Homo sapiens: one gene and its partners. The protein of the gene in region 1 purifies or fractionates together with the protein of each later gene. This does not show direct contact. Each region holds a gene or a part of one and is shown in the gene's direction. Other genes may lie near its edges.

What was found.
Region 2: the proteins of PDPK1 (region 1) and GLG1 purify together in Homo sapiens (affinity purification with mass spectrometry; 2 studies listed by BioGRID and IntAct, with this or other methods). This does not show direct contact.
Region 3: the proteins of PDPK1 (region 1) and FAM199X purify together in Homo sapiens (affinity purification with mass spectrometry; 2 studies listed by BioGRID and IntAct, with this or other methods). This does not show direct contact.
Region 4: the proteins of PDPK1 (region 1) and ACOT9 purify together in Homo sapiens (affinity purification with mass spectrometry; 2 studies listed by BioGRID and IntAct, with this or other methods). This does not show direct contact.

What each region holds. Positions count from the first base shown.
Region 1 is NC_000016.10:2,541,021-2,544,520, forward strand, and holds part of PDPK1 (3-phosphoinositide-dependent protein kinase 1), read left to right. Parts: intron 1-3,500. UniProt on the Homo sapiens protein: Serine/threonine kinase which acts as a master kinase, phosphorylating and activating a subgroup of the AGC family of protein kinases.
Region 2 is NC_000016.10:74,492,115-74,495,614, reverse strand, and holds part of GLG1 (Golgi apparatus protein 1 isoform 3 precursor), read left to right. Parts: intron 1-783; coding exon 784-855; intron 856-2,474; coding exon 2,475-2,658; intron 2,659-3,500. UniProt on the Homo sapiens protein: Binds fibroblast growth factor and E-selectin (cell-adhesion lectin on endothelial cells mediating the binding of neutrophils).
Region 3 is NC_000023.11:104,186,953-104,190,452, forward strand, and holds part of FAM199X (protein FAM199X), read left to right. Parts: intron 1-1,087; coding exon 1,088-1,354; intron 1,355-2,655; coding exon 2,656-2,826; 3' UTR 2,827-3,500.
Region 4 is NC_000023.11:23,740,477-23,744,630, reverse strand, and holds the start of ACOT9 (acyl-coenzyme A thioesterase 9, mitochondrial isoform a precursor), read left to right. Parts: upstream 1-1,354; 5' UTR 1,355-1,486; coding exon 1,487-1,506; intron 1,507-4,154. UniProt on the Homo sapiens protein: Mitochondrial acyl-CoA thioesterase. Catalyzes the hydrolysis of acyl-CoAs into free fatty acids and coenzyme A (CoA), regulating their respective intracellular levels. Regulates both mitochondrial lipid and amino acid metabolism.

The sequences.
Region 1 (3,500 bases):
TGTGATGTATTCCTGTACGCAACGTTGCCCTGACAGCCAGTCCAAGCTGAGTCTAGAGCTGGCAAGGTGAGCTCCCAGTGGTAAGAGGGAAGTGGTTTGTTCTGCTTTTCTGAGATGTGTTCTTATGAGAAGGATCCAGCAGCAGCCTGCAGAGATGTGGGGCCTGAAAAGAGGCCTTGGGCAGCTCTTCTTGACAGGTCTTGGCCCTCTAGACTGCCTTCAGCACAGTTTTGGGGAGAAACAGGGAGTGTTCCTTTTTCAGTCTATGCACTCATCCCCTGAGCCGCCTGACCCAGGGTTTAGATGCTCCAGGGCAGCTGATTGACACCGGTGGGAGACGGAGTCTGGCAAGCAGGTGATGAACTGGGAAGCGCTGCAGAAATGAGGGGGCAAGCGTGGCCAGTCCCTTCTGAGAGGATGTGTTTGGAAGAGAGTGGGCACTGGCGTGGCACTTTCCCCTTCTGAGGAAATGGACAGGATGCCACGTGGTGCTGCAGTTCTGTGTGGGGCAGGTTGTGGCTGCAGAGAAGCCCTGGGTGCAGAAACAGTCCCCCAAGCAGGTGCGAGGGCCAGGGTGCTCTATGCTGCTCCACACCTGCTGTGCGATGACATGTGGCCACTGGGCTGCCCAGCACAGTTGTTTAGAAAGCAGGTTCAAAGGGCAGTGTGCTGGGAGGAAGTGCTGCTGTGGAAACTGCAAGTTTTGGACATGAGTTGCTCAGGTCTTTTCAGCCGTGCATTCTTCTACAGCAGAATTGCATTATTCACTTGCTCAGTGTGATACCATGTCCTTTAAAAAATTATTTGAATATTGAGAACAGGTTGTATGTTCCGTCTCTAGCTGCTAGATCACAGGCAGGGCACATCTTCTCAAAGAGTAACAAGGCATGGGTTGTGTGTGTTCTCTTCTCTTAGTGAGGAGAAAGGCCTGTTTGGGTTCATGATGATTGTTGGGGTCTCTTTTCTGTACCTGATGTTGGTTGCACAAAGTCCGTTTCCATTCTCTTAGTCTAGACAATTTTCCTGATATTTAAACTGGAATTTTTGCTCCAAGAAATTCCAGGTCATTTAGAATGTGTTAAGATTGAGTTTCTGGGCTACACATCCCTTATAAGAGCACCTGATTCTGGTTTCTGTTTGTTTATTTATTTATTTTTTCGAGACAGTCTCGTTCTGTCACGCAGGCTGGAGTACAGTGGCATGATTTTGGCTCACTGCAACCTCCGCCTCATGGGTTCAAGTGATTCTCGTGCCTCAGGCTCCCAAGTAGCTGGGATTACAGGTGCGCACCACCTACATTATTTATTTATTTAATTTATTTATTGAGATGAGGTCTCACTATGTTGCCCAGGCTACTCAAACTTCTGGTCTCAAGGGATCCTCCCGCCTCGGCCTCCCAAAGTGCTGGGATTACAGGCATGAGCCGCCGCACCCAGCCTGGTTTCTGTTTAAAGAGTTGGATTATACAGGGACCCACAGAATTGGGAACTGACAGTACTGTAGAGCCTGTGTATGAAAAAGATGGACAAGCCTGACATTAGCAGCTCACTGTTGAGCACACGGCCCCCTGCAGAATAAACAAGTGTGTGGTTTCCATCTGATGAAGGTGGGCATGTAGTTCCTGGACAGTCCAGTGACTTCCGTCATTCCACAGACAAGATCAGATGCCCTCTCTACCAGCCACCGTGCTGGGACCGGCCCAATCTGTGTTTCAAGTCAGCTTGTAGCACGCAGGGATTCGAAATATTTAAAGATGAGGTTTGAAGGTAGGTCTGGAGACCAAGGACGTTAGTTCTGGAGGTCCCCGTCTCCTGCGTGTTTGCGGAGCTGGTGACAGTGCCCTCTCCCCGTGCTGGAGAGGGCTGAGGAGAGGCTGTGTGTCTCAGCAGGATGCCAGTCAGGATTCTTCTGGCTATGGGCTTATTTTTTGCAATAAATTCATCGTTAAAGTCCCATTCTTTAACCTGTTTTTTCCCTTTTGGAATTAATTCGACTGCAGTAGGAAGGGGTTGTAGCTGAAAGTGACCGCTGTGCATTGAATGCCATCAGAAAAGGCTGATGAGATTTGCAGGGAAGACTTGAAGCCTCACTGAAATGCGCCTGGCGTGTGTTGACCTTTGCAGTGGAACATGTGGGAAAGGGGCCCGCACTCACTTTTCAGTTCTGCCTCGGTGATTCCAGGAGCCCCGGGGTTGGGAGCGGGGACAGGACCTTGCTCCTGAGTCTTAGGTGTGGTGTCTCTCGCCCCTTGCTGCATTGGCGGGACCCTCGGTGCCGCGGCCTCAGTTGCAGGGCGGCCAGGGCTGCTCCGTGAAGGAGGCGCTCACTCCATGGAGCTGCAGGACGCTGCATTCTCCTCACTCTGGCCATTGCCGCTGTCCTTCCTGCTTCCCCTTTTCTGGTGAGGGAGGGCTCCAAGGACTTGCTGGCTGGTCCCCAGATGCCAGCACTCCTGCATCTTCCCCTCCTCTCCTGGCCTGTCACTTTGTTCCTCCTCTGTGAGGGGCCCAGGCTCGGATGCCCGGCCACGGCCTCTCTTTCCAGCCTGTGCGGCCCAGGTGGGTCCAGGATGTTCCCTGCTGCCCTGTTCTCAGCAGTTCTTGTCTTCTTCAGGCTTTTCCTCCTTGCCTAGAGAAATTTCCCTACATGGAAACCCCTGTGGCTGTACAGTCTTTTCTGACCAGTCTGCTGGGTTTTTTGTTATTTGTTTTTTGTTTTTGAGACAGAATCTTGCTCTGTCGCCCAGGCTGGAGTGCAGTGGCACGATCTCGGCTCACCGCAACCTCCGTCTTTCAGGTTGAAGCAATTCTCCTACTTCAGCCTCCTGAGTAGCTGGGATTACAGGCACGTGCCACCGCACCCGGCTAATTTTTTTTTTTTTTTTTTGTAATTTTAGTAGAGACCGGGTTTTGCCATGTTGGCCAGGCTGGTCTCGAGCTCCTGACCTCAGGTGATCCGCCCACCTCGGCCCCCCAAAGTGGTGGGATTACAGGCGTGAGCCACCGTGCCCGGCCTGCTTTACTATATTCTTTAGGGAATCATGACAATAAAAAAAAGTCTGTGCATGTTCAGTACAGATGCAATTTCTTGTTTTTCTAATATTTTCTATCCACTGTTGGTTGAATCCATGCATGTGGAGTCAACCTATGGTTGGGGATGGCAGACTGTATGTACTCTCCTGATAGGTGGTTACAAAGTGTTTCTACCTGAAGAGACCTGGTTGCAAAGCAGCATGCCCAGTATAACTTTCCTCAGGCCCAGGGAAAAGCTTGGAGGGAGGTTCCCACAGAAATATTAGCAGTGGTTTCCTGGGCCAGTGGGATGAGGACCACACATTGAGCTAGCAGTGGAGAAACAGTGGTGAATAAGGTAGGTCTGGCTCTGTCTCCTGGAACTTACTGGACTGAGGATGAACCTTTCTCCACTAATTTTTGTTCTGAAAAATTTCAAAACCGAAGAATAGTTGAAAGCATAGTACAATGAATATCCCTAGCCTTTTC
Region 2 (3,500 bases), about 72 Mb from region 1:
TTACCACCTGCTGACTCTACAGAACAGCCTTCTAAGTCTTTAAATAGAATGGTCTCTCCATCCTTACAACAAAGTACTGAAAGTAACTTGTGTACACTTCCACTCTGCCTGCTGGTTTGCATTAACAGCTTTAACCATCAGAGCCACTGATGTAAGAGTTTCGTTAACTCTAGCATACACTTGTAAGAAAGAAGACTCAGAGGCTGGGTGCGGCGGCTCACGCCTGTAATCCCAGCACTTTGGGAGGCCGAGGCAGGCAGATCACTTGAGGTCAGGAGTTCGAGACCAGCCTGACCAATATGGTGAAACCCCATCTCTACTAAAAATAAAAAAATTAGTTGGGCAGGGTGGCGGGGGCCTGTAATCCCAGCTACTTGGGGCTCTGAGGCAGGAGAATTGCTTGAACCCAGGAGGCAGAGGTTGCACCGAGCTAAGATTGTGCCACTGCACTCCAGCCTGGGCAACAGAGCAAGACTGACTCTATCTCAAAAAAAAAAAAAAAAAAAAAGACTCAGACTCTAACACTTCTCTTGGTTCCCTAATTAACAAAATACATCTGAGAACAAATGACAAACTCCAAATATCATGGGAATATTTTTTTCGTCTTTACTGCAGTCACTGTTTTTGTTAAAAGCCTATTAAATTTTATAAATGGAAGCGCTGTTTGTCCAAAGGTATGTACGATTATAATCGTTTAATAGAAAGCTCTATATGAGATTGTGGATAATGTTCAGCATAACTATTTAGCTAAAGTAATAATAATGTGTATGTTCCATCTTATAGACACAAGCTGGTGAGGGCAGAGTGTATAAGTGCCTCTTTAACCATAAATTTGAAGAATCCATGAGTGAAAAGGTAAGTATTATTTTGAAACTAATGAATGTTTTATTTGTTTTTTAAAAGCTTTCTCAGCCAGACACGGTGGCTCACGCCTGTAATCCCAGCACTTTGGGAGGCTGAGGCAGGTGGATCACGAGGTCAGGAGTTCAAGACCAGCCTGGCCAAGATGGTGAAACGCCGTCTCTACTAAAAATACAAAAATTAGTCGGCCGTGGTGGTGGGCGCCTGTAATCCCAGCTACTCGGGAGGCTGAAGCAGGAAAATCACTTGAACCCAGGAGGTGGAGGTTGCAGTGAGCTGAGATCGCACCACTGCACTCCAGCCTGGGTGACAGAGTGAGACTCTGTCTCAAAAAAAAAAAAAAAAAAAAAGCTTTCTCAATTTCTCTGAAACAATATTTCTTATAATCTTATACCGAAACGTAAATGACTGATAAAGCTCACCGCTTTCAGAGGTGAGGTACTTGGGTTTTAAGCATATTTGGCTGAAACCAAGAAAATGAAACCCTGATTGTGATATCTAGATAGTGAGAAGCCAAGTAGGGTTCTCACTGTGGTGGTTTTTTTAGGTGTTTTTGTTTTGTTTTGTTTTTGTTTTTTTTTGAGTGGAGTCTTTCTCTGTCACCCAGGCTGGGGTGCAGTGGCATGATTCGGCTCACTGTAGCCTCTGCCTGCCGGGTTCAAGCAAGTCTCCTGCCTCAGCCTCCCTAGTAGCTATGACTACAGGCACCTGACAACACGCCCAGCTAATTTTTGTATTTTTAGTAGAGACGGGGTTTCACCATGTTGGCCAAGCTGCTCTCAAACTCCTGACCTCAGGTGATCCACCCGCCTCTCACTGTGGTTTTATATAAAATCCTCAGTGTGATTTTATATAAAATTCTCAGATATTACTTTGTTTGGGGAGTAAAATCAGAGAATTTTATATAAAACCACACTAAGGCCAGCCCTGCCTCCTCAAGAAGTTTAGGTTAACCAAATCAATGTGCTTTCTAGGCAATTAGCTATTTAATTTTTCAGCAGCTATATCATTAAGCATCCTCTTTTAGTTCTTTGTCCCTGAATGAATGCAAGAATAGTTGATGGCTTTTGAAATAATTAATTTTGCTATCTTGTCATTTACTTTCCTGTGTAGCTGAAGAAATGTTTCTCATTTCCTTTTTCTTGTATCATTTGAACAATCTTATTCAAATCTTATTATTCAGATGATATAGAATAATTGAATAATTGTATTTTAAAGCATTGAACAGAATATCCCAAATGTTATGTTAGTTGCCAGTTTGATGCTAGTGAAATTTATGTTCGGGGTATTGTTAAAGTGGAAAAGAATGCTGTGTGTCAAGTTAACATATTGGGATCTGTGAGATATTTACATGTTTTGGATAGCTGCTATTGCAGCAACAACTAGCAAGTGACTACAGAATTTCTAGGTTCCCCACCCACTTACCCCTGTCTCATGCCACACTAGTTTAGCTCAATTGTGAACATTTTAACCAAACTTAAAGATAGATATGTTGGTAATAACTGCAGTTGTTGACATGTACTTGGCTGAGTCGCTGTGCTCATCTTAGTGGTACACGTCAACAGTAAAGTTACATGAGTGGTCTCACGGCTGTTGCTGTACTCTTTCCTCAGTGTCGAGAAGCACTTACAACCCGCCAAAAGCTGATTGCCCAGGATTATAAAGTCAGTTATTCATTGGCCAAATCCTGTAAAAGTGACTTGAAGAAATACCGGTGCAATGTGGAAAACCTTCCGCGATCGCGTGAAGCCAGGCTCTCCTACTTGTTAATGTGCCTGGAGTCAGCTGTACACAGAGGTAGCATTCATATTTTTTTTTTAATTATCATTTCTGTTCCTTTTTGGATTCACACTCTAAAGCTTTATATATATAAACGTTAGTTTCCTCCCATATTTGCTTCTTTGAGTATTTTTCTTTTTTTTTTTTTTTTCTTGAGACGGAGTCTCTCGCTCTGTCGCCCAGGCTGGAGGGCAGTGGCGCAATCTCGGCTCACTGCAAGCTCCGCCTTCCGTGTTCACGCCATTCTCCTGCCTCAGCCTCCCAAGTAGCTGGGATTACAGGCGAGTGCCACTGCGCCTGGCTAATTCTTGTATTTTTAGTAGAGATGGGGTTTCACCATGTTGGTCAGGCTGGTCTCGAACTCCCAAACTTAGGTGATCCGCCCACCTTGGCCTCTCAAAGTGCTTGGATTATAGGTGTGAGCCACCGCACCTAGCAATTTTTTTTTTTTTTTAATAGAGATGAGGTTTTGCCACGTTGGCATCCCGGGTCTCAAAACTCCTGCCCTCACGTGATCCTCCCACCTTAGCTCCCAGAGTGCTAGGATTACAGGCGTGAGCCACTGTGCCCAGCTGAATAGTTTTCTTGTCTTTTCTTTTTTTTTTTTTTGAGACAGAGTCTCGCTTTGTCACCAGGCTGTAGTGCAGTGGCACAATCTCAGCTCACTGCTACCTCCGACTCCCTAGTTCAGCCTCTGGAATAGCTTGGATTACAGGCACGCACCACTATGCCCAGCTAATTTTTGTATTTTTAGTAGAGATGGGATTTCACCATGTTGGCCATGATAGTCTCGATCTCCTGACCTCGTGATCTGCCTGCCTCGGCCTCCCAAAGTGCTGGGATTACAGGCGTGAGCCACT
Region 3 (3,500 bases), on another chromosome or scaffold:
AATTAATGAGAGCTATTCTTTGATAAACAGCTGAGGGATTTGAGTAGTTTTATGCAGTAATAATTGAGCCAGGCTAGGGTGAAACCTAGTGAATTTTCCCTCTGCTGTTCTGAAATACGCATCTCTGGTACTCTGGTATCATCTTCTTTTTTTTTTTTTTTGAGACAGAGTCTCACTCTGGAGTGCAGTGACGCGATCTCGGCTCACTGCAACCTCCACTGCCCGGGTTCAAGTGATTCTCCTGCCTCAGCCTCCCAAGTAGCAGGGATTACAGGCACCTGCCAACGCACCCGGCTAATTTTTGTATTTTTAGTAGAGATGGGGTTTCACCATCTTGACCAGGCTGGTCTTGAACTCCTGACCTCGTGACCCACCTGCCTCAGCCTCCCAAAGTGCTGGGATTACAGGCGTGAGCCGCTGCACCTGGCCTCTGGTATCTTCTAAATACAATTTTTGCTGTTCTTTTTCTGGTACGTAGCTGAGTGAATACTTACGTTCTTATGTTCTACTTTTGATTTGTTTCTTTGTTTTGCATTTATCATTATTTATGAAAAATTTCTCTTATTTCAGTATTTCTCCCAGCAGACATACTATAATTTTCTACATTCCAGCAAATTTTTCATTAGTATGATAAATTGATGTCTTGCATTTGAAGACAGGTATTGTTGGCCCCTAGCTAAGATTTAGGAAACAACCTAATCTTAGATAAAATCAGCAGCTTACTTAAATTGTCTTAAGTGGAGACTTTTAACAAATGCCTAATCTCATCTATTTTATTTTATTGTTAGTTTGTATTTTGAATGCCATTTTTTTACAGTCCTAAATTTCTGAAGGCGAGTAGCCTTCCATTTACTGATTATATTTTATGTGCTTTTAAAATCCAGCTCTATAACGTGTTTTCTAGCTTTTTGAGCATTTATTTTCTAGTACTTATTTCTAAATTTAGCCTTTCTATTCTACCTTACGTATGCATCTGCAGCACTTTTGACAGTCTTTTAGATTAAGTACAATATTATTTTTCCCCCAGCATTTTGAAGGTAGAACATCAAGGTGCAACACTAACCAGTTTGTGTTTGTGCATCCCAAGGTCAGAAACTATATCAAGGAACATAGCCCTCGCCAACGGCCTGCAAGAGAGGCCTGGAAGAGAAGCAACTTTAGTTGTGCAAGCACCAGTGGAGTGAGCGGTGCCAGTGCCAGCGCCAGCAGCAGCAGTGCCAGCATGGTCAGTTCTGCAAGCAGCAGTGGGTCCAGTGTTGGAAACTCTGCTTCAAACTCCAGTGCCAACATGAGTCGAGCACACAGTGACAGCAACCTGTCTGCAAGTGCAGCAGAGCGGATTCGGGATTCAAAAGTAAAACGTCTAATCAATACAAAACTTTACCTTTCAATATTAACATTAGTACTCCTTCATATAAATTTCTTGAAGAGTTAAAATGATCCTGCTGTCTAGTTGCCTGTGGGTTTTGGTCTTAATTGAACAAGCAGGATGCTCTGCTGTTGAACAAAGCACTCTAGGCTGAGTGCTTTGAAATGCTGTTTTGACCCACAACCATATTGCATTCAATCTTACCTGATTTTTGTGTATGTTTTAAGTAAGATAAATTGGTGGAAATAATGAGTTATTCTCAAGATTGCAATATTGACTGCAACTCACTACTGAGCGAATCTCACTACGTTGCTGATGTTGCTGTCTATTAGCTCCTAAGAATGTTGTGTATGTCTTTTGTGTGTGTTAAATGTTTTCTTAATGTTTTAATCTTAAATGTTTCTTCTTAGCTAATTTAAAAATCTAATACTTTCTATAATTTCTGTCTACTCTTTTCACAGTTGAGAAAGTTCTGTATAATATTGTCGGGCACTTAAAAAAAAAAAGAAGGTATAAGTATATTTAGAATGGTCCTGTGGCTTAGCAGGGGAGTTTGATTCCTTGCAATGGCAAGAATCTGGAGCCAGTTTAAAGATGATAAGAGAATCTCTCTAACTCTTTAGTGACCCAGTGGTGACTTGAAGATACACAATGATTCTTTCCCTGGTTCTTAGGGAAGTAGCAGAAACATAGCCAGTTTTGTTGCTAAGGAATTTCTCTAGATATGTGGTCATTCCTTTTTATTATCAGTTCACCGGTGACAAGGATGGGAGTATCCACTGAGTTTCTGATGGATTTTTAAGATGGTATTCGCCTACTACAAAAAAGGCATGATTTTTTTTTTACCTGCCATTGTAAGATTGCTAGTGTTTTTGGATGAAAGGCACCTGAGAATCATAAGTATTAGAGATTTGGGCAATGTTCTCCACAGGTGTATTCAGTATTGTCGCCTAGTATTAATTATGTGTTCATTATGCATTTGTACCAATGTACCTTAATGGAATTTAAAAAAGAAGTCTTTGAAGTGACTTTTTATCTATCACTAGCCAAAATGATCGTCTCAACTCTTCCTAATCAGAAGAGTCACTGGTCAAATACCACAAAATTGGAATCTTAATCATTTTTAAGCCTAAGCCAGTGGCTCACTTATTGGAACAAGGATCATACTACAGAAGGATTTGAACAGCTCTTAAAGTTAGAAAATAGAGAATTTGATCCACAAAACATTTTGGGGTGGATATGCCAAAAACTAAACCAAACTGATTTAGAAATTTTTATTTTGACAGAAGCGATCCAAGCAGCGGAAGTTACAGCAGAAGGCCTTCCGCAAGAGGCAGCTGAAGGAGCAGAGGCAGGCCCGGAAGGAGAGGCTCAGTGGGCTCTTCCTTAACGAAGAGGTGCTGTCCTTGAAAGTGACTGAGGAAGACCATGAAGCAGATGTTGATGTTTTGATGTAATAAGGGTGAATTTATCAACGTTCTTTGTGAGCATTAAAATACTCCATCCTTATGGGTTTACATGCATCTTGACCAAAATTTTGGTTAGGGCTGTGCTGATGTACCATTAATAATTTAAGCCAGTGGTTCTTGGCAGGTGATCCCAAGACCTGCAGCTTCAGCATCACTTGAGAAGTTGTTAGGAATGCATACTAGTGGGCCCCGCCCCCAGACATAGTGAATCAGAAACCAACAGGGAGGCGCCTAGCATTGTTTTTTTAACAAGTGCTGGGTTATTCTGATGCACAGTCTAGTTTAAGAACCACTACTTTGGGTAAACGTTTTGACTGTTTAAAGTTTATGGCGGTGAAGTGGGCGTCTTCAAAGACTAGTACTTACACAGTTTAGAAGATTTCAAGGTACTGCTGACAGTAGTTTATTATGTCAGTATACATACATGTGTAGAGATCATAATTTAGTTCCCTTCTTAATGTTACAATTTCTTAGTTTACTTTTCCTAAAGGGCCATAGCATAATTCTTGATTCCTGGTGGAAATCTTTTCTGAGGTGTGGGGGTGGGCAAGGTGTGGATTGCTGTTTACGATAGTGCCTTCATTAGTTTTAGTTCTGTCTGTTTTCATTCATTATTGACTCAAAGGTATTAGAACAGGCCCTTATCTTTTTCCTATTAGATT
Region 4 (4,154 bases), on another chromosome or scaffold:
GAGATCCTTGTAGGCTAAAAGGGGAGTCTTCCAGATGTGAGATTGATAAAAGCAGGGAAAATTCAGTAGAAAGAGAAAGCCGAAGACCATGCTCCATGTGTAACTCATGAAGTGATTCAAAACAGAAAGCTAGCTTAATTCAAATCAATACATTTTTACTAAGTATGGGGTATTGCGAAAAAGCATATGGCCCTTGCCTTTTAGGAAATTGCCGTATTTAGAGGCAAAGCAAGACTTGCTTATATTCTCAAAAGATCCCCACTCGTTACCTTATTTCCCCTTTAAACCGCTTTACCATATTTGAGATCATGTTATTTGCTAACTTGTTTGTTGATTTGTTTTCCTTCCTTATCAAGAGGCAAGCCCCTTAAGGGCGGGGATTTTTGTCCTTTTTTCTTTTTGCAACCCCAACCTCTGCAATAGTGCCTGGCACAATGCAAACAGCTCAATAATAATTCGTTGAAAGAAATGGAGAATTAGATCGTAGGGTGAAATAATCTTAAACTCTCTGGCCTTGAATCTCTCTAGCTCGCCCAAGATATCAAACATTGGGGGTCAGGCCGAGAAGAGGAGAGGAACAATTTTTTCCTGTTAGGTCAGTGGTTTTTAGCCTTTGGTTACATTAGCATCACCTGGGGGCATCTTTAGACATCATCCCGAAGCCCAGACCGCACCCAGGACTAAACTAGAATCTCCAGCCAGTGGGTCTCAAGCATCAGTTTTTTGTTGTTTTTTTTTTGAGACATTGTCTCCTTCTGTCGCCCAAGCTGAAGTGTAGTGGTGCGATCTCGGCTCACCGCAACCTCCGCCTCCCAGGTTCAAGCGATACTCGTGCCTGTCCCCCGAGTAGCTGGGATTACAGGCGTCTGCCACCACGCCTGGCTAATTTTTGAATTTTTAGTAGAGACAGGGTTTCGCCATGTTGGCCAGGCTGGTCTTGAACTCCTGACCTCAGGTGATCTGCCCGCCTAGGCCTTCCAAAGTGCTGGAATTACAGGCGTGAGCCACCGCGCCCGGCCAAGTATCAGTATTTTGGAAAGTTGCCCAGGAGATTCCAATGTGCAGCCAAGGGGAAGAACAGACGGAGCCAAGGCGCGGGGATCAAGGATAAAGGAGACAAGCTCCACTAGGCAGAGCCGGGCCTCTTCTCGACGTCACGCCCTGGCGTTGCTGCGTGGTTCGTTTACTCAACCGAGAATAGGCCGGTCCTCGCTGTAGCAACACGACCCGCACAACTGATTGAGTGGGAAGCTCCGCAGAGGCGGACTCCAGCCTCCCGCCAATGAACGGGTAGGGTCCGCCCGGCACAGCGCGGCCACGCCCCCTGGACGCCGCGGTCCCGCCCCCGGACACCGCTGTCCGGCTCCCGGGCTGTCCTCAGCAAGGGCGCGGTCTGGTACTCGTGCGTCTTTTATCGCCTCAGTTTCCCTCCGCCGACTAGCGCGCGGGGCCCGGTTCTCCATCGCGCGCACGGCAGCCTAGCGCAATGAGGCGGGCAGCACTGCGGTAGGTGGCGGGGCGTGGAAGGGGCTGGCAGGGCGGTAGCCTGGGGTGCCATCGTCTTCCCCTAGAGCTTCGGGCTGGCCCCGGCGGAAGAAGTGGGCCACGCATGGGCATTTGGGCTCTATGATAAGGGGCGCTCGCCCACTGTACCTCCGACCGGACATAAGCCCGCCGGCCTTTGGTTGGGAGAACCTCGCCCCCACTTTGGCGACTTCTAGCACTGAGTTTGATATTAAAAGCAAAGCAGCACTTTTAAGGGAGGAAGTTGGGTGTTCCCTAAAATTCCTTTGGCCTTGCTCATCCGGGGTGTGGTTGGTAGCCGCGTCGGGGTAGCCCCTTGTCAGAAAGATAATATTTGGAGTTCTATGTTACCTCTAGCCCTTCATCTTCCTTTGGAGAACATTTTTAGGATTAAATGCTTGACCTACTTCGGCTCTTACTTAAGTTTGTTGTAACATTGGCAGAGATTACAGGGTACCTTTTGGCTCCCAGGACCCTAGGACTGTGCGTCTAGGACCCTGGTGCCAATTTGAACTTAACTTTAATGAGCCGCAAAGCCCTTATAAGAGGCTGGGTGCTTTGATTGGGCCACGTGGGTAAGGGAGGATGCCTTTTTGTATATGTAATCTTCCCAGCTGGCACAGTTAAGGCCTGAGGGCCTTAGACTCCAGAGCGTGTCTAGCTCTCCCTAATCCCTTTCACCCGAGCATGCCACCCTTTCCAAGTTTTCTGCCTGGCTGCATCCCAGGGGGCTCACACCTGCTCCAGTTTCTGAAGTTATCTCGCTGCCAGTGGGCCTGTCCCCCTGATGTGACTCATAGTGCTTTTGACTCACATTAACCCCATCAATTCTCTTGGGGGTCCTGGATATCTCTCTCTCTCTCTCTCTCCCTCTCTCTCTCTCTCTCTCTCTCACTCACTCACTGTTCCTGGGGACTTTGTTATCAGTTGTAAGGGTTCTGTCTTGTTTATAGTACTTAAAAACAAACAAAAAACCTTTGTTAAACTATTTGAAGGCAGACTGAAAGTCATTATGAGAGGGGCCACAGTTGACTTTAGCTTGCAATGTGAAAGGTCTTCTACAAAAGCTCCATGGTCTTGTTCAGGTGCTTTCTCTTATAACCCTGTGTTCCTTTCTTGAAAATTCTATTGAGGCCGGGTGTGGTGGTGCACGACTGCAGTCCCAGCGTTTTGGGATGCTGAGGTGGATGGATCACTTGAGGCCAGGAGTTCGAGACCAGCCTGGCCAACATGGTGAAACCCCGTCTCTATTAAAAATACAAAAATTAGCCGGGAGTGGTGGTGCATGTCTGTAGTCACAGCTACTTTTGGAGGCTGAGGCAGGAGAATCGCCTGAACCGGAAGGCAGAGGTTGCAGTGAGCTGAGATCGCGCCCCTGCACTCCAGCCTGGGCAACACAGTGAGATTCTGTCTCAAACAAAAAACTATTGAACCTTAAGCGGATAATCTCTTAGTGTCTAGTGAGAGGAGGAGTTCACAAATGAATATAGACTGAGATGATTAGGTTCTTTGACTGGTGGGCAACCTTTGTAGCTTCTTTTCTTTTTTAGACTTGCAAGAGGCACCTTTGTTTAGTCTCTAAATAGAGGTTATTTCCTCAGAGTGGAGGGCATATGAGTGGTATTGCCTGTTATTGCACTGAACACTCTTCCTTGCCAACTGCTGTAAGCTTGGGACCCAGGGCTGAGCCAGGGTGAGTTATGTGACTCCCCAGGTAGGCCATGGAGGCCTTGAGTTTTCTTTTTTTTTTTTCTCTTTGAAATACTTTTTTTATTTCTTTGGGATATATGTCCAGAAGAGAAATTGCTGGATCATATGGTAGTTATATTTTTAATTTTTGGAGGAACTGCCTCATTATTTTTCAAAATGGCTGTACCAGTTTACATTTTCACCAATAGTGTACGAGGGTTCCCTTTTCTCTACATCCTCACCAACACTTGTTATCTTTTGTCTTTTTGTAATAATCATCTTTTTATTATTATTATTATTATACTTTAAGTTTAGGGTACATGTGCACAATGTGCAGGTTAGTTACATATGTATACATGTGCCATGCTGGTGTGCTGCACCCATTAACTCGTCATTTAGCATTAGGTATATCTCCTAATGCTGTCCCTCCCCACTCCCCCCGCCTTGAGTTTCTTGATCTCCTTTGATTGGAAAGGTTCAGTTACAAGGTCCTGGGATTTGAGTGTTGCAAAGGCCTCTCCACAGTAAAGGCCTAGAGGTTTTGCTATAAGTAAGACTCCTGAGGGCTTATCAGGAGATAAGCCAGTAACCCTGAGGTACTGAAGTGTTGAGTATTGATTAAAACCATTCTCCCACCTCCTCCACCTCAGTGCGGTGTGTGTGTGTGTGTGTGTGTGTGTGTGTGTGTGTGTGTGTGTGTATGTATTGGGGGAGATCGGAAGAACTGGGCTCTATCTGGACTCTGCTGGTGTGCCTGTTGACTGGCACTGGGGGAAAGTCGTCTGAAACTGGGGCCTCAGTTTCTTAAGGAGGTTGGTTTGAATCAGAATCTTCAAATATAGGGGGATCTGAGGGTACAAAAAGGGTCTGTGCACCTCCTGAAATAGTATATACCATTGTGTGTGTGAGCAAAAATGTATTCCAACCCTTCCCACGCCCGC